7 linked regions of the Homo sapiens genome follow. The protein of the gene in region 2 purifies or fractionates together with the protein of the main gene of each other region. This does not show direct contact. Each region holds a gene or a part of one and is shown on either strand. Other genes may lie near its edges.

Region 1 (3,500 bases), on a different chromosome or scaffold from region 2:
TGCACTGTAACAGGAAGATCTGTCCACAGATAGAGGAAACCAAGCCCAGTGCCTGTGACTGGGGGAGCAGAGGTGGGAGTAACACACTGGATCCTGGTTGATGTCGTGCCTGAGGCAGTCATAACACTGCTCTTTGTAGTTATGTGAGCCAGTAAGATCTCTTTGGGCTTAAGCCAATTTGGGTTATTTTGTGATCTGTGACCCAAAGAGCCCTTCGTGATAAATGTCACCAAAGTGAGAGCCTGGATGTCCAGTCCTCATAAGGACTCTGTGCAGGCCCGAATGGAGCCACCAGCCTCACCGCCGGCTTACCCCTCCACATGAAGCCATATGCCATACTGCTCACAGAGTTCTTTCAATCTCCCAATCTTGTCTGTGTGTCCTACTGCTGCCGTTCCTAGGATAAAACACATCAGGGCATTAAAAGGAACAAATGTTTTCTAAGGCTTTATACCTTAAACACTTTTATACACATTATCGCCCTAGGAGGGAAGTGACTTATTATATCCCTATTTTATTGAGATTTTCTTTGTGGAAGGACTTAAAATCAGTGTTTGTGAGTTGACTTATTACAAGCTTTGAAGAGTATGTAATCTCTATTACATGTATCTAATTGTGTCATTGAATTCTTTTATATACTTATTTTCTATCTACTTGATCTGCTGACTCATGAGAAATATATTCAAATCTCCCACCAAGATTGTGGTTTGTCAATATATACTTGTGTTACATCAGACTTTTCCTTTAGCTTTCCTTTATATATTTTAAAGTTATGTTCACAAGCATTCATAACTGTTTTTTTTTTTTTTTGAGACGGAGTCTCACACTGTCGCCCAGGCTAGAGTGCAGTGGCATGATCTCAACTCTGCAACCTCCACCTCCCAGGTTCAAGCAATTCTCCTTGCCTCAGCCTCCCAAGTAGGTGGGATTACAGGCGGTGGCCACCACGCCCGGCTAATTTTTTTGTATTTTTAGTAGAGACGGGGTTTCACTACGTTGGCCAGGCTGGTCTCGAACTCCTGACCTCGTGATCCACCTGCCTCGGCCTTCCAAAGTGCTGGGATTATAAGCATGAGCCACCGTGCCCAGCAGGTATAACTGTTATTTCTTTTAGGAGATTACATCTTTCATCAATATGAAGTCTATTTTATCCCACACTAATATGGCTATGGTACTTTCATTTTGTCAGCATTTGTCCAAGATAAACTTTTCCACCTTTTTATTTTATTGTCACTTCCTGGATTATTTTGATTTAGATATGCCCTTTATAAAAATCATATAGGTGGGCTGGGCACAGTGGCTCACATCTGTAATCCCAGCACTCTGGGAGGCCCAGGCGGGTGGATCACAAGGTCAGGAGATGGAGACCATCCTGGCTAACACGGTGAAATCCCGTCTCTACTAAAAATACAAAAACAAAATTAGCCGGGTGTAGTGGTGGGCGCCTATAGTCCCAGGTACTCGCGGGGCCGAGGCGGGAGAATGGCGTGAACCTGGGAGGCAGAGCTTGTAGTGAGCCGAGATCGTGCCACTGCACTCCAGCCTGGGCAACAAAGCAAGACTCCAGCTCAAAAAACAAACAAACAAAACATATAGATGAATTTGTTTTGTTTCCACCCAGGTTCCTTGTAATACAGAACATGCATTCTGAAGCCAGCTTAAGCATATTAAGCACTTTCAGCCGCTCCCTTGGTAATTGATTGCACTACAGATTTTGCTGGGGAGATCCCTTTTCAGAGAGAGCTTAGTTAAAACGTTGAGTCAGGCATTCCCCCAACCGTCCTAAATTTCCAGTTAGCAGTAAGCCAACTAAAAAGATTTCAAACACTCACCAACGGCCTCAACAAACACAGCTAAAGAAAGTAGTTCTTTTGTAAGGTCTATGCCAGGAAAAGGGCTGAAAACTTTTTCCCCTCATACCTAAATCTACCTCAAATTAAAAAAAAAAAATCTTAACAGACACATTTAGTTTAGCTGAAACAAGATCAAATGTCAATGCATGGGCTGTGCCACAGGCTCTTCCAGCAAAATAAAAGCGTACTGCTGTGTTAGTGCCTGGATCGCATGCAGATTCTCTTTTCGTATTTCTTGGCAATGTCTGGTGACTAACCCTTGACATGTGTCTGCTGACATCTGCAACATAATCACACTGGCAAGTCACTCAGTCACATGCAAACTGCAGCCCCTCCAGTTTATCATGTGATTGAATATGGGTGAATTTGTGTTTTTAAACAATAAGGCAGGAAGTGATGGTTTTCCTGTTGGCAATAAAGTGAATATTTATGTGGTTTTTCTATTTTGTCTTTTTTTTTTTTTTTTGAGACAGAGTCTCACCCTGTTGCCCAGGCCGGAGTGCAGCAGCGCAATCTCGGCTCACTGCAATCTCAGCCTCCTGGGTTCAAGCTATTCTCCTGCCTCGGCCTCCTAAGTAGCTGGGATTACAGGTGCCTGCCACCACAACCAGCTAATTTTTATATTTTTAGTAGAGACAGGGTTTCGCCATTTTGGCCAGGCTGGTCTTGAACTCCTGACCTCAGGTGATCTTCCCGCCTTGGCCTCTCAAAGTGCTGGAATTACATGCATGAGCCACCGCACCCGGCCTAAATAAGCAGTTTTATTGTAGTATGATTTTTTTTTTTTTTTTTTTTTTTGAGACAGAGACCCTTTCTGTCGCCCAGGCTACAGTGCGGTGGTGCGATCTTGGCTCACTGCAACCTCCACCTCCCAGGTTCAAGCGATTTTCCTGCCTCAGCCTCCCAAGTAGCTGGGACTACAGGTGCACACCACCACACCTGGCTAATTTTTGCATTTTTAGTAGAGATGGGGTTTTACCACATTGGTCAGGCTGGTCTTGAACTCCTGACCTTGTGATCTGCCTGCCTCAGCCTCCCAAAGTGCTGGGACTACAGGCATGAGCTCTCATGCTCGGCCTATTGTAGTATGATTTACATGCAACAAAACTCACTCATGTAAGTATACGGTCCAATGAGTTTTGACAAATATATAGAGCATGTAACCATCAACACAATCAAGATTCAGAATACTTCCATCAACCCCCAAATCCCATCAACCCCAATATAATTACCCTTTCCCTGACTCCTCACTGGCCCTGGAAAATCCTGATCTGCTTCTGTCACTGTAGTTTTTTGCCTTTTTTTTTTTTTTTCTTTTTTTTTTGAGATAGGGTCTCACTCTGTCGCCCAGGCTGAAGTGCAGTAGCACAATCTCGGCTCATTGCAAGCTCCGCCTCCCGGGTTCAAGCCATTCTCCTGCCTCAGCCTCTCAAGTAGCTGGGACTACAGGTGCCCACCACCACACCTGGCAAGTTTTATTTATTTACTTATTTATTTTTTACAGAAACAGAGTCTCACTCTGTCACCAAGGCTGGAGTGCAGTGGTGCGATCTCACCTCACTGCAACCTCTGCCTCCCGAGTTCATGCCATTCTCCTGCCTCGGCCTCCCAAGTAGCTAGGACTACAGGTGCCCACCACCACACCCA
Region 2 (3,500 bases):
GAAGAGTAACAAGTTCTGCTTCATTCTTAGCCCCTATGTCTCACCTCTTCCCCCAGGACATGGTTTTGGCAATTAGAGCTACTAAAAAAGGAAAGGGAATTTTCTGCCACTCACTTCTAAATTAAATGTTTCACTTCTAAGTTAAATTGTTTAAACAATCTCTCCTTGTGAAATTTTTTAAACCAGTTTTCTAAAAGCCTATTCATATAAGAAACTTATCTTTCTTAAAATTACCTTAAATGTGCAATATTTAGAACAACGGTAGATGGTTAAGCCTGAGAGTTTTTCTGCTAATCTTAGCCTTAGCAAGTGTTTAGGGCACAGAGAAGGAGCTCTAAGTCTGATAGAGATGGAAAGGCTGAGACCCAAGTTCCTAGCCCAGTGTGAACATGGTATATCTACACTTCCGGGACCCACCCCAAACCCCAAACAAAGAAAACCTGTTGGGGGGAGCTAGAGAGGCGGAAGAAGTTCTGAGATGGTGATTGAGTAGAGCTTTAAAATGTTCACCCGTTGGTTGGGGACTGGGTGGGGGAAGCATTGGGGGGTGGTGGGGGATAAAAGACTACAAATTGAGTTCAATGTATACTGCTCCGGTGATGGGTGCACCAAAATCTCACGATCGCCACTAAAGAACTTACTCTGTAACCAAATATCACCTGTTCCCCAAAAACCTATGGAAATAAACTGTTTTTTAAATGAGATAGTTTTAATCAGTAGCACAGAAGATTCACATCCTCTGTACAACAAAATTAGTTTCAGGAAAAAATCAGGTAAAACAACAATAGTAACAGTTTCTTTTTCCGAAAAGAAATGCAGACAGTGAAAATATTAAACTTTGTTCTAGTAAAAATTATTACATTACAAAAAAGGAAAATATGGTTTAATGCTTTTTAATTACAATGATGTATTTTTGTTTTTGTTTCGTATAAAAGGAAAAAACTTGTAACCTTGTACGTACATATTGGTTGGTCATAGTAATGAATAATAGCATTACAGTTTGATGATAATTATAAAAGGCTAACGTTAAAAAACATTCCAATTGTAAAGATTTTATTCAAATTCAGTACAATATTTCATTGATAAGTGAAAATTTGCACTTGCCAATCAAATACATTCACTTTGTAGTTTGAAAAAAAAAAAAAAAGCTTCATTCATTGGGAAGAAATGGTTATTCTTCCTTAGCTGAATCACCCAAATTAAAGACAAAGCAGGGAAATTGGAATTATGCACTGAGACATAGTCTTACGCTAAAGGGAATGTCCTAATCTAATAATATCTAATAATTTCAGATATTATTCCTTTGCTGTATATAAAAGCTGCACTTTTGACCAAAGAGTATTGTTCAGAAACCAATGCATGTAATACTTACACTTTTGCTAGCTCCATTGATATTTGTTCCAAAGAGCATCCCTTTGTCTCAGGTATAAACATAACAACAAAAAGCAGGGATGCTAGACTCATGATTGTATATATAAAGCACACCCATGGCAGGCCAATAAGATCTATAAAGGACAAAAGAAATTGATTAGAAATGTGTTTTGTGTAGCTTTGATCCCATTTGTGAACAGCCACTTAGGGCATACATAGCACCATATGTATTTTCAAACATGCCAGCAGTATCCAGGAAAATAGAAATCACAAATTTAAAATGTAGCCAGCTCTGAAGGTGTTACTTTTACAGACTACCTTAGTTTTCTCTGTTGAAGAAAATAGCAGTCTTGTAACTATCACAATTTACACCCAATGTCATCTTCTTGGTGGGCATGTCTTTCTGTTTCAAAATGGCAATGTGTCTTTATTAATATAAAAAAGCACATGCAAAAAAGGAACCTCAAATAACATGGAAACATATGATGTAGAAGGTAAAATCTCTCTTCTCCCTCTCCACAGTTCCCCTCTTGGGAATCGCCATGGTAGCAGTTTAGTTTCTGTTCGGTGGACAATTTTTTCCCCCTCTTGCTATCATTCCCAATGGTGGACATTTTTAATGACATTTGTACAGATGGATTTTTCTTGGAATGAGCTCACCCTTCTTTGCTCTGATGTGAATAAATCATTTCATGCTGGCAATATTTCATCATTTTTAATAGCTTGCAGTGTATTTGTAATGTTTCTTCCTGGGTTCAGAGAAAAAAGTGATCATGGATCCAGTAAAAGCCATCAACTTGCCAAGATGCATCACAAGAAGCAGGATCCTCAAGATTCTGATGACTCTCATCTGCAAACCTAGTTTTTCCTCTGACCGCTTCCAGCCAAAGATACAGTCCCTTTGTAGTCATGGACCAAGTCAAGGCACATTCAGTGGTCAGCAGTGGCCCCCACAGTGCACTTGAGGCTGCCATTTGCATTGTGGCGGCCCCTGACTCAGCAGCAGAATGTCTAGTGTGGCAAGGAGTAGTCAACTACGAACAACAAGATTTTACAAATAGCCTTTAACAGCTGCAGCCACAAACCACAGTTGGTCAGGCAGGAAAACTGACTGAGCACTTGTGTACTGAGGCAGTGTTTGTAAATGCAGCATGAAAGAATCGAAGCATAGTAACTACTTGTCGGTGAGTTGTGCTGAGGTTGGGAGAAGCAGGAAGGAGGAACCGCACTGCAGTTCTTTTGGCAATTTTAATTAAACTCCTGTCTCTCTCTGCTTTTCTAGCTGGCACAGGGTATGGCCCAACTGATTGCTTAATAAAGTCCTTGTAGAATTGGGTGTCCTTCCTTCTCTGGAGCTTAAAACCAGAATATAGAAATTGTCAAAACCCTAAAGGCTGTCTCATCAAATTGTCCCCAGTTTTGTTTGAGCACTTTGAGTAACAGGGAGCTCACCATTTCACGAAGCCTCTTACTGCCCTGTGAAATAGTTGCGTCTGCTAAAAAGTTATTCCTTGCTTAGATCCTAAATCTGCCTTTCAGAGGCTGTGCTTTGTCCTGTGGAAGGACACACAGTGAATCAGCTCTCCCCACCCCTTCTCCGTGACAGCCATTCAAATATTTGAATGCACCTCAGCCCTCCTCTGAGAATCCCCTTGTCCAAGTCAAACATCCTGAGCTCTTCAACCATTCTTCCCACAGCATAGGTTACTGCCCTCGCCATTCAGGTTGCCCTCCTTCAGCGAACACACTGCAATTTTTAAATGGCCCTCTCGAGATGTTTTACTCAGAGCTGAATGCAATGCTACAATTGTGTCATGATCACTGCAGAGTACATTTGTCTATCTGGAACAGTCTGCTTTTATTGATACAGCTGAAATTGCATAAAAAATGTTGGTGTTTAAGGGCTTACTGCCAAGTAGAACCTCACGTCTTTTAGATCCCTGTGTCCTACACTTGGAAAATTTATTTTTGAAAATAAGTAGGAAATGTCAAGCATTCCAATTAAATGTCATCTAAAGGTTTTAGAGCATTCTAGGCTTTTTGTTTTTAAGTGGATCTGTTTTCCTACATTTGTTCTAAAAGCCCATACGGAACTTCTAAAGCTTCACTAGCTCCTCCAGTGTATTAGC
Region 3 (3,500 bases), on a different chromosome or scaffold from region 2:
GGCTAATTTCGTTTGTGTAGCGACAGGGGCTCGCTGTGTGCTTCTGCTGGTCTCGAATTCCTGAGCTCAAACGATCCTCCCGCCTCGGCCTCCCCGAGTGCTGGGATTATAGGTGTGGGCCACTGCGCCTGGCTGCCTCCAGCATCTTATCTCATTAATAGTCAGTGTTCAGAAAATGATTGCTGTTATTATTATTTTTATGTATTATTGTTGGTCAGATGGGTTTTCCTCAGGTTGAGAAACTGTTATTTGCTCAATCATCCAGTGATTGATGGACACTTATATTAGCTCCATTTCTCACTGTTTTATTAGCAACACTGCTGTGAATCACTTTGTACAGATTACTTTCGTTGGGAAAGGGGCAAAGGAGGCACTGACTTCCTTGGATGTGTTCTCCAAAGTGGAATTATGTTGTCAGCTATAAAAATTATAAAACTTGTTACATATTGACAAACAATGCCTGTCAAAATTTGCAGGGTGCTGTGGCTCACACCTGTAATCCCAACTTCCAGGCTGCAGTGAACTATGATCACACCACTGCACTCCAGCCTGGGCAACAGAGCCAGACCCTGTTTCTTAAATTAAAAAAAAAAAAAATTAGCTGAGTACTTAGATCAGATGGATTGAAACATGACAGCCCCATTTCATCTGGCCGGTTAAGGTCCTCATGGAATGAAAAACACTTTCGGGCACTCTCCTATGAGAGAGAGAATGGGTTTCTTTAATTGCCAGATTGTCTGAACACAGCCTCAGCTACTTCTAGGAATAAGACGAAGCAGTGAGGAAGTTGCCAGTTGAGTGATTCTTGGGGAAAAAAATTAGCATTCAGTGCCAGCTCTCTAAAGTGTGGATTCTGGATTCTGGTAGAAGCCAGTAAAGAAACGTTTTCTCTGGAGTGGAAGCTAGTAAGATTTATTCTGTGGTGATGAAGCCATCTGAAACCTTACAAGCAGTGTGGTTGTATCAGCATATGGGAGCTGACTGCCTCAGGACTTTGGAAGCCTGCTTCTCTGTGCCTCAGCCGGAACTCAGGTTACTCAGTAGTCATTTGCTAATTTCTGAGAACGCAGCACTCCTGAAGGGATAGAAAGCATGAACAATACCCAAACTTTTTAGACTAGTACTGTGTGTCAGGTATTGTAACATTCATTCAGTCCCTGAAATGTACAAACTAGTTATTGCTCCCCTTTTTCATTTGAGGATACTGATGCCCAGATAAGTTAAGTGGCTTGCCCTGGGTCACATAGCTTGTAAATGCCGAGCTAGCATTTGAACCCAGGCAGTCTTCTTCCTGGAATGCTTGCTCTTAACACTTCACTGTTCTATGAAAGGTCTTTGGTGGTGGGCGTCACTCCTGGTTCACACTTAGGTCACTCCTTCCCCAGGACCCACTGGGTCACACCTCCCCTCCCCACACCCACCCCAGTGGGCCTCAGTTCTGGCTTATCATGGAGGCCTTCCCTGACTGCTACTGCAACTCCACCACTCCCTATGTCTTTCCCTGTTTGTGTTTTCCCCATAGCACTTTCCACAGTCGGCTACACTGTATCTTATTGTTGGTTGGCTGGCTGATCTTTGGTCTTTGTTCCACCACTGAGGATGTGGAGGGAAGGAATTGTTGTCTTGTTTTGCTCCTTCTGTTTGGATGCTTCCAATAGTATGTGACATGTACTAGGTGCTCAGTAAATATTTGATGAGTGGATTATACTGCTTCCTTCCTGAACCAATATAGTGAACCTGAGTCCTCCCTATTACTTCCTACTTTTGTATTTTCTAATGTATACAAAAGGAAGGCCAGGCATGGTGGCTTACGCCTGTAATCCCAGCACTTTGGGAGGTGGAGGCGGATGGATCACTCAAGGTCAGGAGTTCGAGACCAACCTGGCCAACATGATGAAACCCCATCTCTACTAAAAATACAGAAATTAGCCGGGCGGGCGAAGGTTGCAGTGAGCTGAGATGGTGCCACTGCACTCCAGCCTGACAACAGAGCGAGACTTTGTCACAAAAAAAAAAAAAAAAAAAAAATTAGCCAGGCATGGTGGCACACACCTGTAGTCCCAGCTACTAGGGAGGCTGAGGCAGGAGAATAGCTTGAACCCAGGAAGCAGAGGTTGCAGTGAGCTGAGATCATGCCACTGCACTCTAGCCTGGGTGACAGAGTGAGACTCTGTCTAAAAAAAAAATATTTACAAATCATGCATCTGATAAGGGACTAGTATCCAGAATATATAAAGAATTTTTAAAATACAATGGATAGGCCGGGCGCAGTGGCTCACGCCTGTAATCCCAACACTTTGGGAGGCCAAGGCTGGTAGATCACTTGAGGTCAGGGGTTCCAGACCAGTCTGGCCAACATGGTGAAACCCTGTCTCTATTGAAAATACAAAAAATTAGTTGGATGTGGTGGTGTGCACCTGTAATCCCAGTTACTTGGGAAGCTGAGGCAGGAGACTAGCTTGACCCCAGGATTCGGAGGTTGCAGTGAGCCGAGATCATGCCACTGCACTCCAGCCTGGCGACCGAGTAAGACTCTGTCTCAAAAAAAAAAAAAAAGCCGGGCATGGTGGTACACACCTGACCTGTAGTCCCAGCTACTAGGGAGGCTGAGGCAGGAGAACAGCTTGAACCCAGGAAGCAGAGGTTGCAGTGAGCTGAGATCATGCCACTGCACTCTAGCCTGGGTGACAGAGTGAGACTCTGTCTAAAAAAAAAAAAAAAAAAAGTAAAAAGGCAGCTAACAAAATGGAAGAAAATGTTTACAAATCATGCATCTGATAAGGGACTAGTATCCAGAATATATAAAGAATTTTTAAAACACAATGGAAAGGCCGGGCGCAGTGGCTCACGCCTGTAATCCCAACACTTTGGGAGGCCAAGGCTGGTGGATCACTTGAGGTCAGGGGTTCAAGACCAGTCTGGCCAACATGGTGAAACCCTGTCTCTACTGAAAATACAAAAAATTAGTTGGACGTGGTGGTGTGCACCTGTAATCCCAGTTACTTGGGAAGCTGAGGCAGGAGAATAGCTTGACCCCAGGAGGCGGAGGTTGCAGTGAGCCAAGATCATGCCACTGCACTCCAGCCTGGGCAACAGAGCAGGACTCTGTCTCAAAAAAAAAAAAAAAAAAACAACAACAACAACAAAACAATGAAAAGACAATCCAGTTTAAAAACAAGAGAAGGATTTGAATAGCCATTTCTTCAGAAAAGGTATTCAAATGGCCAGTAAGCACATGAAAAGTTGTTAAACATCATAGGTATTAGGGAAATGGAAACATCAATACAAATCACAGAGACGCCATTCTATACCTGCTACAATGGCTGTGATAAAAAAGAAAGGCAAGAACAAGTGTTGAGAATGTGGAGAAATTGGGACCCTCATACATTGCTGATTAGATTGTAAAGTGGTACAGCTGCTTTGGAAAAAAGCCTGGCAGTTCCTCCAAATGTTAAACATAGCTACCATATGACCCAGCAGTTCTACTCCTATATATCTAC
Region 4 (4,228 bases), on a different chromosome or scaffold from region 2:
GAAACAACGTCTATGTGCTGAACTCTTAATCACAAACATTTCTTGGGCATAATCAGAAATGAAGGACATAAATCATCAAATGTAATTTAAAAATTTTAGCTTTCCAAATATGGAATATGTATTCTTTAATTTTATATCTAGAAGTTCATAATCTTTTACAGACCCATATCCTTTTGAGAATGTGATCACCCAACAGAGTCTTTATCTAGGAAAAAAGCAAATATATGCTATATTCTGCATATGATTTCTGGGAAGCCAAGGACCCTCAGAAGTATATGCATGAAATTAAGAAAGAAGCAGGGCATGGTGGCTCACATCTGTAATCCCAGCACTTAGAGAGGCTAAGGCAGGAGGATCACTTGAGGCCAGGAGTTCAAGATCAGCCTGAGCAACACAGGGAGACCCTCATCTCTACAAAAAATAGAAAAATTAGACAGGCATGGTGGCATGCACATGTAGTCCTAACTTCTTGGGAGGCTGTGGGAGAAGGATCACTCGGGCCCAGAAGTTCAAGGCTGCAGTGAACCGTGATCGTGCCACTACACCCCAGCCTGGGCAACAGGGCAAGACCCTGTCTCTAAAAAAAGAAATAAATAAATAAATTAAGAACAACTGATGTAAACTTTTAAAATTGCAAAGTTGAGCAGTGGAATTTAAGAATCTCTTCAAAGCAGAGAATCCAACTAATATTGAAATATACTGTCATTTACTTTTTCAAAAACAGATTATGCAAGAGTAGAACATTGTATTTTCTAACTTATCCCTCCTTTTTGGAGGTGATACAAATTTTTTGAAACATTTTTTTTTTTCTTTACAAAAATTGTTTTCTCTTTGTTGCCCAGGCTGGTCTCTAACTCCTGGCCTCAAGTGATCCCCCAGCCTTGGCCTCCCAAAGTGCTGGAATGACAGGCATGACCCACTGTGACCCACCAAAAGCATACATATATTTCAGATGAATCCATTTTAACTCATGGAAAGAAACTAGCAGTAGAAACCTCTTTCTAGCAGCTTGAGATAGAATGGTTCAAAGTATTAACATACTTTACTATTGCTCAAATATCATAGGAAGAGTTCTCAATTCTAATGCAATATATATTTTTAAACATAAAAACATACCAACCTAATTCCTATACTTAAGAGTCTCATGATAAAGTTTTATTTTTTTTAAAGTCGGATTTTTTTACTAGACTTATGCACTAATACAACATGTTTTTCTATAAATTAGCACATTTTTAGTTCTGTTTTATGTTATGTTTGTTACGTCGCCTGATAGTCGAAACCAGTTGTTCTCAACCTGCTACCAAATACCAACCTGGAAATATGCCACTATTTAAAAAGCCCGAAGAATAGGGTTTTGTTTTTCCTTTTTAATTGTTTGGTGTTCAAACTACATAGTAAACCAGTTGGCAACCATTACTGAACAAAAATAGTTTTTCGTATGCATGAGCACCATTTTCCAACAGAAAACACTTAACCATTTTTAAGGTACTGGAAGTCCATGCAAGGGTTCACATATGCAGTAAATATCCTTTCAATCTGGTTGTATCACATTGTTTCTGTGAAAGGAAGACCTGATATTGCAGATCTCACAATTAAATGGTAAAAATCAATGAAAAACTGCACCTGAGGCTCAAACACTAGCCAGATGGCCTTTGGTTGGAAAGGTCTCATCTGCTTCTTAAATCCCGCCGTAACTGTGAATGTTTGCGATGCCACCACATCCCCAGTACAAGAGAACTGGAGCATCTCTGGCTCCTTCCATAATCGAAGGGCTTCCAGCGTAGGGCGTAGGGGGAGAGGCCCGAAGCCCTGGAGACAGCGCCCGAGGGATGGAGGCCGCGCTCGGCTGCGCTCAGGTCCGGGTGGCTCCGGGAGCTGAGACCCCGCAGGATGCAGCGGGGGGGGGCCAGGGCCTGATCCCCTACCCCTGCGAGCCAGGGCCGCCTACGCCCCCACTGCTTCCCACAGGTAACGTCCAGCCCTCTCCTCCCCTATCCCCCGAAATATCCCGGTTCCGCTCCGCTCCGCTCGCCGCCCGTGACCCCGACCCCGACCCGTCCGCGACGGCGCCCTCCCCAGGAGGCAGCGGAGGACTAGGGCCAGGCCGCCCACCCTGGCGGCGGCGGCGGCTCCCGGCCAAGGCGGACCCTGGGGAGGACAGCAGCTGGGCCGCGGCCTGTCCCTAGGGGGAGCGGGCGCAGGGCCGCGAGTGGGCAGCGCCTCCGCCCCGCACGAACAAAGCGGCCAGGCGCGCCGGGCCGAGGCAGCACCGCCTCTCCGGGAGCGCGGGGGGCGGGGAGGATGGCGGGGGTACTCACCTGAGGGCCGGCGGAGGGCGCGGGCGGGACAGGCCCAGGAGACGGGACCGCGGCGGGCCGGGGCTCCGCGCCGAGGGCGCACGGGCTACGGGGAAGGGGCGACCGGCGCGACGTCCGCGGCGGGGCCCGGGAGCCCCGCGCCGCGGGCCGGGGGCCGGGGCCCGAGCTCGATTCTGCGGCCGCGAGGTATGGGAACCGGTCCGCCGGGCCAGGCAGCGGTGCTAGGCAGCAGGGGCAGCGACGCCGCCGCCTTTCCCTTCTCCTGCCCCCGTCCCTGCTCCGCCGCGTCCTCGTCCTCGCTGGGTCCCCGCCGCCGCCGCCTCAGCCTCGGCGCTCCTCGGGTTTCTTCTCTCCATCAAGGCCGGGCCGACCCGCAGGGACCATCCCGGAAAGTGAGGGGTTGTTGCCGTTTCCCGCAGCTGTTGGTGGCCATCTTTAATCCTCCTCCTCCTCCTGCTTTCTCCACCTCCCGCTGGCTGTCTGACTGACTGACTGGATCCTCCTCTTTCCCCTCCTGCTCCTCCTACTGAGCCGGCCGCAGAAATTGCAGCCGCTCAGCTTCTACCCCCTCCTGCCTTTCCTTCCTCTTTCCTTACTTCCTTCCCTTCCCTCGGCTTCCCGCTCTTGCCTCACTCTCAGCGGCTGCCTTCGCCCCTGTCTGCAGACAGCGCCGCTGGATGCTCCCAGCTGGACTTCAACCCCACTCCTCTCAGTCCCTCTCCCCACTGCCTTCCAGACGCGCCTCTTCCCCGCCCCGCGCCCCTCTCTCCTCTCCCACCCCTGCCCCTCTCCGCGGCGCTCACCCTCCTCAGTCCCAGTTTCTGAAAGGACTCAGCTGAGAAAGGACAACTGGGTTCCGCTTTCCTTAACCCTACACCCTTTAGCTGGATGCTGTCAGAGGCGATGGAGAAACGCAAAGGTGCGTTAATTTTACTCTAGCCAGAGTATAAAAGAACTGCCCACGCCAGCTATTGTACTACGCAGCTTCGAAACTCCTGCACGCTCTCCTGTGTGGCTCCCGTCCGTGATGGGACTGTAGTTGAGGAGCTCGGTCTCAAATGGTGCCTTCCGTCAGTGACCTTGAGTCGGTTGCCTAAGATTTTAGATTTTCCTTTTCCTTCCTGGGAGGGGCATTATTTATACCTTTGCAGTCCCACAAACAGTGTTTAGACCAAATAAGTATCCTTTAGTAAACCTAGAACTGCCAAGTGATCATCATTTTGCCCGTTTGTTCCTACTCAACCCAGCAGACAATTTGGGTCACGCTTCAGTTCTGGCAGTAAAGACAAACTGAGTCAGCAGTTAGGAGTGGACTCCCTTAAACAACAGAGTTAGAGTGGGGAAGTGGTCATAACATCGCTGTAATCACAAACTTGTTTTTCCTAACACTGCAATCTACAGAAGTTTCAGGATTTCCTCTAATAAACATAAGGCAAGTTGGATTTGCTGTTTTCTTCTTTTTGACGATTTTGCCTTTAGAGTTGGACCCATTTGTAATGATTTACTCGTCAATTACTCCAAGATAACAAAGTTGGAGGTAACATTGCTAACAAACACAGGTGATATATATGAGCACTTTGTGGGGGGGGGGTGTCACAGTTTTTCTTCTGTGGGGCACTGGCTATTAAAAAAAAAAAACACCTTGCCCTTTCAAAATAAGACTAGTGTGTTCAAAGGTTAGTCCCTTAAACAGACCAAATGTGGGCAGAAATGTTTTTAAATGTAGTTTTAGATTCTACTTCAAAATGAGTAATGTTTTGAAAGTTCAAATATAAGATTTTGTAATTATAACAATTTAAGAGTTTCAAATCTCTTTGAAAAGAATATGCCAAAACAAACCTAAAAATATATTTTAGTAAAAATACCGGTATCCTTTGGTGGGGGGCGGAGCAGAATTCTAATATTTAATC
Region 5 (2,778 bases), 2.2 Mb from region 2:
ATGTAAAATTAATTTTTCAGTTTTTCTCAGATGTGTTGTTTATGTTACAGCTTTGTGTTCAAGTTCTCTTGAAGTAATTGTGCAGAATGGGCTATATAATTGTTTATTGATGCTGCTAATGTTTCTGGGGTTTTTTTGTTGTTAATTTTATATGCTCATTTTCACTTTTAGCCTATCATGAGCTCTTTTGAAATAAAATACTTAATTTGAAAAATATTTGTGCATATGTTTATAATGACTTATCTTAGGTGCCAATTTGATGTTGCCATCTGCAGTATGAACTGGGTGTCTGACAGTTTGAGAGGGCCAGGGAAGAATGGTGCAATAGATTCCCCCTAACCATATGGAATGTGAATACGCCAAGATTTTTCTCTGTCAAATATACAGACTTTGGATATTTTGTTGAATATAATGTTAACTCTGCATGTAAAAAAGCAAATGGGATTATAGTTATCTTTAGTGACAGCACTTACTGGATGCCTAGGATGACAAACACTGGATTTTAAGCATTTGAGCCTTAAGATTACTCCTTACTTGAAGTCTCTTTTCTTAAATTTAGAAGTAATTCTAATTTTGGGGTGGTTTTCACATGTCTTAATTTAGTTGAGGTAGTATTAACACATAAGAATAAGCCTTGAGAATGACAGGAGTGTGGAAGAGGAACAGCATCTAAAGTCAGCTAGATAGCACTGAGGAAGGACAGACGTCAGCAGAGGAAGAGACTGGAAAACTCAGATGCATTGAGCCCTCCAAGAGTGTAACAGGGCCGGGCGTGGTCATCCCAGCACTTTGGGAGGCTGAGGTGGGCAGATCATGCATGAGGTCAGGAGTTCGAGACCAGCCTGACCAACACGGTGAAACCTCGTCTCTACTAAAAATACGAAAATTAGCCGGGTGTGGTGGCACGCATCTGTAATTAATTCCAGCTACTCAGGAGGCTGAGGCAGGAGAATTGGTTGAACCCGGGAGGTGGAGGTTGCAGTGAGCCAAGATTGTGCCACTGCAGTCCAGCCTGGCGACAGAGCTAGAGTCAGTCTCAAAAAAAACAAAAAAAGAAAAAGAGTGTAACAGAGTGGAGGGACTTGTCACACACACACATTGCCACTCCAGTGTGTGCAGCCTCTGTGCTCACCATTGTGTGTGTGTGTGTATATATCTGATGTTTAGCATGTTGACTTAGAAAATTATATTCTTTTAACTATTTAAGAAGACACTTTAGAACTATTACTATAAAAATGCAAGTGTGTCTAAAATAAATGTTTAATTTTAACATTTGTAGAGCAGTTTGTAACTTGCAAAGTACCTTTTTTACTCATCTCACTAGATCTTCACAGCAGCAATCCCTTTTCCCCCGAAAATGTGAGGGAAATGATCCCTGTAGTGCCTATAATCCCATATCTAAGGGGCAGAGCAGAGACTAGAACTTGGTTTCTTAAAATTTGAGGATGTTTGAAAATTTGAGGATGCATTTATGTAAGAAGTTCCCGTAGGTGGAACACACTGTTTCCCAGTGATAGTGGATAAACGAAGTGTTTCTAGGTTGTCATTTACTGCTTGCTATTAGTTCAGTGTCTCTTAGCACTTTTTCCAGCCAATTACAAGTATTTTAGATAATCTTCTTTTTTTTTTTTTTTTTTTTTTTACATAGTTTTTAGCACTTAATTTCAGGCTGGGCACATAGGGACTCAAATTTTAGTTGCCTAAGAGCTCAGTCTGTGCCGCTGAGAGTGTCTCGTTCACTTTTGTCCTTGGCTCTGAGCGTAGTACCTGATACATAGCCAAATAACTATGTATTATAGTAATAAATACGGTAAATAAATATTGTGAATGAAACCTCAGAGGGTCATCTGGCCTTTGTCTTGCCATTCTTTTTTTTTTTTGACATTAGAATAATTTCTGTGTTAAATATTTGCTTTATTTCAGTTTGGACATCACATTTCACAGTCAGAAGGACAGCGAACTAAAGAAGAAATGGTCAACACAAAAGCTGTTGACCAAGGTATCAGCAACACAAGCCTTCTAAACTCAAGGATTTAAACTCAACTTAAGGTTGAGCTTTAAACTTCCAAAACTTCTTCCTGGATGATAAATTATTCTTAGAAACTGATTTGGACTGTTAAAGGCTAAAAGTAGATGTATTTAAAGACTCTTCTTGACACATTTTGCCTACACTTGCTATGTAAATATGTATGCCTGTCATTTTTGTTTCCTTTGTTCCTTTTTACGTTTATACTCTGTTCTTCTGTACATAGAGCTTAAAATAAACATTCTTTTTGAACTTGCTTGTGTTTTGTAGCAACCAAAATTCATGTTTTCTCACCACATAGTCTGACCTTTTTTTGTTGTTGTTTTTTGTGAGGAATGCCATAGGTAGAGTTTCTTGGATAATAGAAATGAAACATAAGTTTGCAACAGATATTTTGTCCCTCTTCTCCCACATACTAATGTGATATGGAAATTTACATGTTTCCCTGGACCTTTCAGACTGTGTGCAACAGCCAGGGAGCTGAGGTCACCACTGGAATGGACTCAGCCCCACCCATTTTGCCAAGCTCTTCACTTTCAGCAAAGCCCAGGTTTCCTACAGTTTTCTTGTTGTTGTGGTAGAGAGTTGCTTGCCTAGCCCCAGCTAGGAGTGGCTGTGTGGCAGTTATGACCATGAAGAAAAGGGTTAGAATCACAGAGATGACATCACTGAGCTGTTGAACCAACATCAACAGCTCCAGTTAGGAGTGGCTGTGTGGCAGTTATGACCATGAAGAAAAGGGTTAGAATCAC
Region 6 (3,500 bases), on a different chromosome or scaffold from region 2:
AACATGGTGAAACCCCGTCTCTACTAAAAATACAAAACAATTAGCTGGGCGTGGTGGCGGGCGCCTGTAATCCCAGCTACTTAGGAGGCTAAGGCAGGAGAATTGCTTGAACCCTGGAGGCGGAGGTTGCAGTGAGCCAAGATCGTGCCACTGCACTCCAGCCTGGGCAACAGAGCAAGACTCTGCCTCAAAAAAAAAAAAAAAAGTATAAGCCTAACTTTGTCACTAGTCCTAAGGAGAAACTTTTAACCACAAAGTTTTTATCATTGAAGACAATATTGAACAACCCCCTATTTTGTGAGGATTGAGAAGGGGTGAATAGAGGCTTGAGACTTTCCTTTGTGTGGTAGGACTTGGAGGAGAAATCCCCTGGACTTTCACTAACCCTCTGACCTACTCCCCACACCCAGTTGATGGCTTTCCATAATAAGATTGGGATTTCCTTTAAAAAAAAAAAAAAAAGAGGCCAAACTGCATTCTTCTTAGAAGGTCTATTCAGTTGATAAATGGCACTTAACTGATGGTTTTTTCATATAACCTTTAACAAGAACTCATAAGTTGCATTGATTATGCCCCAAGAGATGAGGGACCGATGGTAATTCAGATGGGCACCTCTGAAAAGATTTATCAGTTTTCTGTCCCGTTCCAGCCAGATTTTTTGGAAAACCTTGGGGAAAGACTGAAATTCCCCACCAATCTGAGACTGTATGCGAGTTTTTACAACATTAATTGGAAAAAACAAGAATCCCAACATGGCACCCAATAGACCTCCACAGATAAAATCATTGACCAGATGAGCACTGTGAGTCGTTGCGGTAGGCAGATGCTCCTTAATGGGACCTCGAAGGCCGAAAAACAAGACATTGCTGAGTCCATTCCGGAAAAGAATGGGCACCAAGCCTCGATAATACTCTCCAATTCCATGACATTTCAGTGCCTTGAAAGCCTGGTAAGTGTTGGTAAATTTGTCATGATGCTTGTGGTCTTGAAGCAATGTCTGAACTCTTTCCAGTGGAGTGAAAATTGCTTCTGTTGTCCCTGCAAGCACTGCCGCCACGCCACTGGTTGCAAACTCTGGAGCACTGACATGCTTGTGGAGAAGGCAGGATAAATCCTCATACAGACCAAACATAAGTGCAAGCGTAGTTGTCTTCTGCATCAATGGGGGAAGGATTCCACGATACAAATTTCGAAATCCATCCCTTCTCAACTGAAGTATTGCATCCCGGGTTTTGATGCCATACAGCTGTTGTCGAAAGAGGACCTTCTGAATGGGAAATGTGATTGCGACATTGTTGAAGGCTGCACAGCAGCCACACAAGTAATGCTTCATCTCACCAACATTTGTAATATGAGGTGATATATCTTGTTTTGAAGATGTTAGTATTGGTGGCCTCTTTTCATGAGCTTCTGAATCCATCATGCTGCTTAAGATCTTTCTTTTTCATGAAGGACTTTTTTTAACCTACAAATAATAAATGACAACGGGTAAACCCGTTTTATAGAGAGCTAAACACATGGGCTTTCTCCCTAATCCATCCTCTAATATCTGGACACCACACTTTCCTTTTCAGACTAGATCAGTGATTCTTAAAGCATTTTCAGAAGACCCCTGGAAGTCCCTGAGATCCTTTTGGGAGTCCAGGAGATTTTCCTTTTTCAAACTACATATCTATGTGAGGCTTGATTTTTTGCATATACTTTAATCAAAATGACTTATCACAACAGACTGAATGCAGCAAACAGGAAACTCCATCTTAAGTCAGACATGCAAAAGGCTTAGAAAACTGTAAAATATTTTCTAATGACTGTAAAATCATTAGAAAAAAATGGGAGGCATGAATGTTATTTTTCATGAAAATGTGTTAACATGTAATGTGTTTATCATTACCTTAAAATTCATATTTTAATTTTAAATTCCTAAAGACCCTGAATATCAGTCCACATAAACAAAGGGTGTTTGGGGCCCACAATCATTTTTAAGACTGTAAAGGAGTCCTAACACCAAAAACTTTCAGAGCCACTAGACTAGTTCGTAATTACTGACTACACTATATACGGTATCTATCTATTGTCCTGCTGAAATAGGCCCACATTCCTCCCCTGAGAAATAAAACAGCAAGACATGCACTCATTCTATTCATATTTATACTTCTTTGGTACCTACTATGAACTAGGTCCTCTGCTAAGTTGCTAGAGATTCAAAGATAAGGAATTCACAAACTAATAGAATGTGCCAAGGTGAACAATTACACCAATGTGACAGCTTCTATGATAACCAACCATTGTGGGAACACAGGTAAGGGACACTGAACATGCACCTTGGAAGGTGGAGGTGTGGGATGATGGGGGCAAGGAAGGCCTACAGGTATGTACCATGCACTCTATTTTCATGTATGAATTCTCAAAACAACTCCACAATTATTTTTCCAGTTTTACAAATGAATAAAACCAGTATTCTCTTTTGTTCTGTTCAGGGCACAGCTAGTAACTGGTGGGGTCAGCATTCTGAAATGAAGTCTGAGTGATTCCAGGGCTCATATCCCTGCTACCATATCACAGATGGCAATGACTTTGTGAGGCTGCCCTGGGATAAGAGGTGGCTATACTAGATACTGCTGAAAATGATTGGAACTAAGCCAAAGTTCCACCCCTATAATACACCTCCTTCTGTAAAATGCATGATCTTTCCTTGCCAGTCATCTAAATCTGATTCCTTCTCCCTGAAAAAATCCAGATCCAAATAGCTGGGTCATACAGAATAATTCCCACCTTCCAGTTCTGGTCTTGGAAATCACCTTTATTTGGGGGATAACATGATAACTGTATATTGTATCTTAGATATAATAGAAATATATAGAAACTTCTATATATTAGAAATATATATAAATATATACACACATATGTGTATGTGTGTGTGTATATGAGGCTAAATATTTTTTAATTGGATTTTAATTCCTTAACAGTAAGATACTGGCCAGGCATGGTGGCTTATGCCTGTAATCCCAGCACTTTGGGAGGCTGGGGCAGGAGGATTGCTTGAATCACGAGTTTGAGACCAGTGTGGGCAACATAGAGAGATCCCATGCCTATGAAAAAGTTAAAAATTAGCTGGGCATGGTAGCACATGCCTGTAGCCCCAGCTATGTGGGATGCTGAGGTGGGAGGATCAATTGAGCCAGGGAGGTCAAGGCTGCAGTGAGCCATGATTGCACCACTGCACTCCAGCCTGGGCAACAGAGCAAGACTCTTGTTTCTAAAAATAATAACAATAATTTAAAAATTAAAAATAGTAGTCAGGCGCAGTGGCTCACACTTGTCATCCCAGCACTTTGGAAGACCAAGGTGGGAGGATTGCATGAGGCCACAAATTTGTGCCCAGCCTGGGCAACATAGTGAGACTCTGCCTCTACAAAAATCAAAATAAATTTTTGGGGCATGATGGCGTACACCAGCTACTGGGAAGGTGGAGGGAGAAGGACCTCTTGAGCCCAGGAAGT
Region 7 (4,287 bases), on a different chromosome or scaffold from region 2:
AATACCAGACATGAAAGCAAAGACATCATTCCTCAGCAACAGTTGGGGTCAGTCTTATTGTTCTCATTTACAGATAAGAAAACTGAAGCTCACAAAGACTAAAGAGTTGCCCTGGCCCATCAGCATGTTCGCAGTGGGCAGGAGCCAGAACCTGCACCTTCCTGAAACCAACGCTTTTCCAGTCCCATCCTCACTGTGAGCACTGGGGAAATCTTCCCTTCAGGTGGAAGGCAACAGGTGGCCAGACGCAATCCCGCCCTCAAGTGCCTTGGCTCTCCCATCACAACTGATGCGCTGAAGTGATCCAGGCAGCTCCCTCCACATCATCAAGTCTGTGCAGAATGTGGCTCCATGACACCGTTCCTGGATCCTCTGTGCAGAGTGCCAGGCTGCTCAAGGAGACCGAGGGGCCCTTTGGTCTCGCGGAGCCGTGTAAACCAGACACAGAGGAGGAGCACCTTTACTCTCCACTGAAAGAACTCCATATTTAAATAGAGGCTACACTAAAATGTGTCACCTGGAATGGCCACCCTATTTAGGCCAAAGCCAGGCCATCTGAAAGCCACCCGTCACATTGTTCGTCCTATAGCTCCTTGTAAGTTTCCCCGTTTTACTCAGACTGTTTCCCATTAAAGCACTTTTACTGGACTGGAGGTGATGAGAGTAATGTCAGGGAGAAAATACCCAGCTCTCCCGCCAAAGGGTGTTCTCTAGGCAAAGCTCAGAACTTCTCACTCTCCAACTGAACATGTAGAAAACCTACTCAAAACGCCATCAGCCAATCCTGCTTGTCTGACACACACAACACGTATACCAAACACACACGTATACCAAACACAGCTTGCACCCTGACTGAACGCATTGCCAGGAATAGCCTGAGGCAGGGCGGCAGGAGCAAGAACGTGAACTTTGGACTCCAACAGCCTGCTTTCAGATCCTGGCTCTACCACTCTCTGCCAGTGTGACTAGGACAGGCTATTCCAGGATGCCTCAGGTTCCAGTCTGTGAAATGGGACAACAGCACCTCTCATGCCTTCTCCACAAGGCTCTCGTGAGGAATCAGTGGGCAGCCCGTGGAGCACCCTTGGAGCCGGGCAAGGCAGTGCCAGCCCTGTTCCTGGATCAGGGCCAGCCCTCACACCAGCTGCCCCCTCTGCAGTCCTCTTCTCTGCTCAGTTTGAAGCCCACCTCCTCTTCACAGGCCTCCGTTACCGCCCACACTGACCCCCAGTCCCTTACATCACATCACCCTATTTTTATTTTGTGTACAACTGTTTCCTGATACCTTTCTGGTTTACTTCTCAATTTTCTCCTGCTAGAATGAAGCTCCTTGAGGGGTCCCTTGTCTGGTTCGGGGCTGGGCCCTGCCACCTGGAAGTCCATTACATAGTAGACAGCCCATCAATTACCTGTTGAAGGTGACTGCTTTATGCCTGGTCACAAACAAAACAGAAAGGGAGATAAAACCAGTCCAAGCAGAGACCATGAGGACGTGCCAGAAAGTGTAAGACTCTCTATGTGCCTTGTTCCAGGCCCGTCACATTCATCCACATCTGTGGTCCATCACTCTGCACGTGGAAAGGATGAAGTCCTCTGCCTGGCGTCCGGGAGCATTGACAGTCTGGCTCCCACCTTTCTCTTCACGTCCCCATCCCCAATTCCTCCGGGACTAAGAAAGCCCCCGGCTGCCGTGCACCAAGCTTCACGCCTCTGGTGTTGTTCAGTCCTCTGAAATGCCCTCCCAGACCCCGTCTCTTCCTCCTTCCCAAGGCCACATTCCAGCCTGGGCTCCCCGCTCCTCTGGGCCTGACCATCTTATATCTCCACCTGGCTCTGACACACTGTTACCGCCGTCGCCGTCACCTCAGGCATACGGCAGAAGCCATGTGAGAGTCTGAATTACTGAGAACCCTTTATCCACTTACGGGGATAACTGCATCTTCCTGGGAAATGTCAACTCAACTAAAAATAAAGTGCTTCCAGGACTAGCGGCCAGTCTCTACTCTTCATAAAGGGAAAAGGGCAAAAGCCCACTGAAGGTACTTAGGCTGAAAGCAGCCCTCTGTGCTGTGAGACACCTGGCAGAGAAACGAACGATACCTTTATCAGTGGGGCCACAGACCAGTACTAAGTCAGCCTGGAGAATTTATGATTTTATTGCCTATTTAGAATACGATCAAAACCGATGTAACTAGTTTCCCTTCAGCCCGTCAGTAACGCCTTCACCCCAGAGCTTAACACTAAATCCTACAGATAAGCGCTGACCTGGACGCAGGATGGGGACAGGGCACATTACTCTGGAATACAGCCCAACTCGCAGCGCTGTGGGGGCCGCGACTGCCCGCTTCCCCCAGATGCCAAGCAGGGGATGCGGACGAGATGCGGCCCGGGTGGCTCGAGGGCTGCAGCCCCCGCCCGGCCCCTCTCCCGCTCCCCCGACCCTCGCAGGCCCCAGGGCTCCGCCGCACCCCCCAGCACCCCGTCCCGGGCCCGACCCCGAGGCGCGACCCGTACCCCTCAGGGCCGCGGGTCGGGAACACGGTCCCCGCGGCCACCCGGGCCCCGACGGCCCTCCCCGCCCGGCCCTCAGCGCGGCCCCGCCCGCCCGCGGCCTTGACAGCCCGGAAGAAGCGGAGGCGGCGCTGCCCGGCCGTTCCCGCGCCACGCAGCCCTTCCTGGCACCTCGCAGCTCCGCTACGGCCGAGCCGCGGTCTCCCTCACGGCCGCGGGAAGGAGGACGGCGGGGCACGGGCGGCCGCAGGCGCTGCGCTCCGGCTCCGGGAAGCTGCAGCGAGCACTTCCGCTCCGTCCTCCGCGGCGCCGCCTCCAGGGCCCCCAAGATGGCGCGAGGGCGGGGCCAAGGGCTCCAACCATTTCCGCTTCCGGCGCAGACGCGCAGGCCGTTGGCGGGCGGGCCTCCCGGCGGAAGAGACGACAGCGGCGGAAACGCGCACAGGCGCAGCTGCGTCCTCTGGCTCCGGGCCCGGCTAGCTTCGCTCCAGAGATTGCGCGGGCTCAGGGACTAGGCCCGTGGCCACACCCCCCCTTGCGACAAAGACCAATGGAAGCGGGCGTTGCTGGTCGCTAAGAGAACCCTCGGCGGCAAGATGGCAGCGGCGGGCGAGGGCACCCCGAGCTCCCGCGGGCCGCGTCGGGACCCGCCTAGGCGGCCGCCCCGGAACGGTAACGACTGCGGGCCACGGGACAGGTCGCTGGCTGCCCTGGGCTCCATTCAGGGTGCGATCGCTCTACGCCCTCGACCCCCAAATGCTCACCTCGGAAAGTAGAGGTCCAGGTGCCGCGGCGGAGCCAGGGCCGCCCCCGCGTCCCCCACTCCCACAGGACTCGCCGTGCGCCTCGGGCTCGGCTCGCACCCTTCCCCGAGCCCTCCTCCCGCAGCAGGCCAAGCCCTGCAGGGGGTCGCCCCCCGCGGGCTCCTAGCCGGGAAGACCGGGTTCCGGCCGCAGCCTCACAGCCAGCGGGACCTGGGGTTGCCATGGGGATCCCGAAGCCCAGGACTTGGGGCGAGGGCAGGCGCAGGAGCAGCACCAAGCCTCCTGACTTCCTGGCCGGTGCTGTCCAGAAACGCTAGGACGCGTTTCAAAAGCAGTTTTTGCCTGTACTTCCAGCACTTTGGGAGGCCGAGGCGGGTGGATCACCTGAGGTCAGGAGTTCGAGACCAGTGTGGCCAACATGGCGAAACCCGGTCTCTACTAAAAAATACAAAAATTGGCCCGGGGTGGTGCCTCCTGTAGTTCCAGCTACTCGGGAGGCTGAGGCAGGAGAATCGCTTGAACCCAGGAAGCGGAGGTTGCAGAGAGCCGAGATCGCGCCGCTGCACCCCAGCCTGGGCGACAGAGCAAGACTCAGTCTCAAAAAAAAAAAAAAGAGCAGGTTTTGATAGGAACTGTTTCTAGAATCAAATAAACGGGTCTGGAATGAACTCAGAGCTAACACTACTATCTTCAGGTAGAACCTGACCCTGATTTGGGACAGATACAGTAGCCTGTAGTAACCCCCTGCCCTCCTCCCCGACATTTTCCCATAAACCCTGCCCACAAAATGTGCCTGAGGAGCTGGTAGGGAGGGAGCCCTGCCCATTCCTGGAACTGCAGGAGTTGGCGGGTGGCACACCCAGCAACTAGGAGGAGATGAAGCCGGCCAGGCCATCCTTGGGTATGAGTGTGGATTTTCTCCCCAGCGATAGGAGGCCACTGAAGGGCCACGGCAGGGGATGGGAGAGTCTGCTCCTCCCCTGTGTGCCTCACTGACACTGCCGCTCTGCCT

Evidence for each region.
Region 1: the proteins of SLC2A12 (region 2) and PDXDC1 purify together in Homo sapiens (affinity purification with mass spectrometry; 2 studies listed by BioGRID and IntAct, with this or other methods). This does not show direct contact.
Region 3: the proteins of SLC2A12 (region 2) and TAMM41 purify together in Homo sapiens (affinity purification with mass spectrometry; 2 studies listed by BioGRID and IntAct, with this or other methods). This does not show direct contact.
Region 4: the proteins of SLC2A12 (region 2) and WDFY3 purify together in Homo sapiens (affinity purification with mass spectrometry; 2 studies listed by BioGRID and IntAct, with this or other methods). This does not show direct contact.
Region 5: the proteins of SLC2A12 (region 2) and MTFR2 purify together in Homo sapiens (affinity purification with mass spectrometry; 2 studies listed by BioGRID and IntAct, with this or other methods). This does not show direct contact.
Region 6: the proteins of SLC2A12 (region 2) and SLC25A51 purify together in Homo sapiens (affinity purification with mass spectrometry; 2 studies listed by BioGRID and IntAct, with this or other methods). This does not show direct contact.
Region 7: the proteins of SLC2A12 (region 2) and RER1 purify together in Homo sapiens (affinity purification with mass spectrometry; 2 studies listed by BioGRID and IntAct, with this or other methods). This does not show direct contact.

The regions. Positions count from the first base shown.
Region 1 is NC_000016.10:15,013,026-15,016,525, reverse strand, and holds part of PDXDC1 (pyridoxal-dependent decarboxylase domain-containing protein 1), read right to left. Parts: intron 398-3,500; coding exon 313-397; intron 1-312.
Region 2 is NC_000006.12:134,000,625-134,004,124, forward strand, and holds part of SLC2A12 (solute carrier family 2, facilitated glucose transporter member 12), read right to left. Parts: intron 1,506-3,500; coding exon 1,373-1,505; intron 1-1,372. UniProt on the Homo sapiens protein: Insulin-independent facilitative glucose transporter.
Region 3 is NC_000003.12:11,822,886-11,826,385, reverse strand, and holds part of TAMM41 (phosphatidate cytidylyltransferase, mitochondrial isoform a precursor), read left to right. Parts: intron 1-3,500. UniProt on the Homo sapiens protein: Catalyzes the conversion of phosphatidic acid (PA) to CDP-diacylglycerol (CDP-DAG), an essential intermediate in the synthesis of phosphatidylglycerol, cardiolipin and phosphatidylinositol.
Region 4 is NC_000004.12:84,963,891-84,968,118, forward strand, and holds the start of WDFY3 (WD repeat and FYVE domain-containing protein 3), read right to left. Parts: upstream 2,801-4,228; 5' UTR 2,319-2,800; intron 1,969-2,318; exon of another isoform or gene 1,726-1,968; intron 1-1,725. UniProt on the Homo sapiens protein: Required for selective macroautophagy (aggrephagy). Acts as an adapter protein by linking specific proteins destined for degradation to the core autophagic machinery members, such as the ATG5-ATG12-ATG16L E3-like ligase, SQSTM1 and LC3.
Region 5 is NC_000006.12:136,230,534-136,233,311, reverse strand, and holds the end of MTFR2 (mitochondrial fission regulator 2), read left to right. Parts: intron 1-1,923; coding exon 1,924-2,037; 3' UTR 2,038-2,278; downstream 2,279-2,778. UniProt on the Homo sapiens protein: May play a role in mitochondrial aerobic respiration essentially in the testis. Can also promote mitochondrial fission.
Region 6 is NC_000009.12:37,887,128-37,890,627, forward strand, and holds the end of SLC25A51 (mitochondrial nicotinamide adenine dinucleotide transporter SLC25A51), read right to left. Parts: intron 1,466-3,500; 5' UTR 1,424-1,465; coding exon 530-1,423; 3' UTR 477-529; downstream 1-476. UniProt on the Homo sapiens protein: Mitochondrial membrane carrier protein that mediates the import of NAD(+) into mitochondria. Mitochondrial NAD(+) is required for glycolysis and mitochondrial respiration.
Region 7 is NC_000001.11:2,390,354-2,394,640, reverse strand, and holds the start of RER1 (protein RER1), read right to left. Parts: upstream 2,801-4,287; 5' UTR 2,683-2,800; intron 1-2,682. Other genes in the region: MORN1 (MORN repeat-containing protein 1), read left to right, coding at 3,108-3,183. UniProt on the Homo sapiens protein: Involved in the retrieval of endoplasmic reticulum membrane proteins from the early Golgi compartment.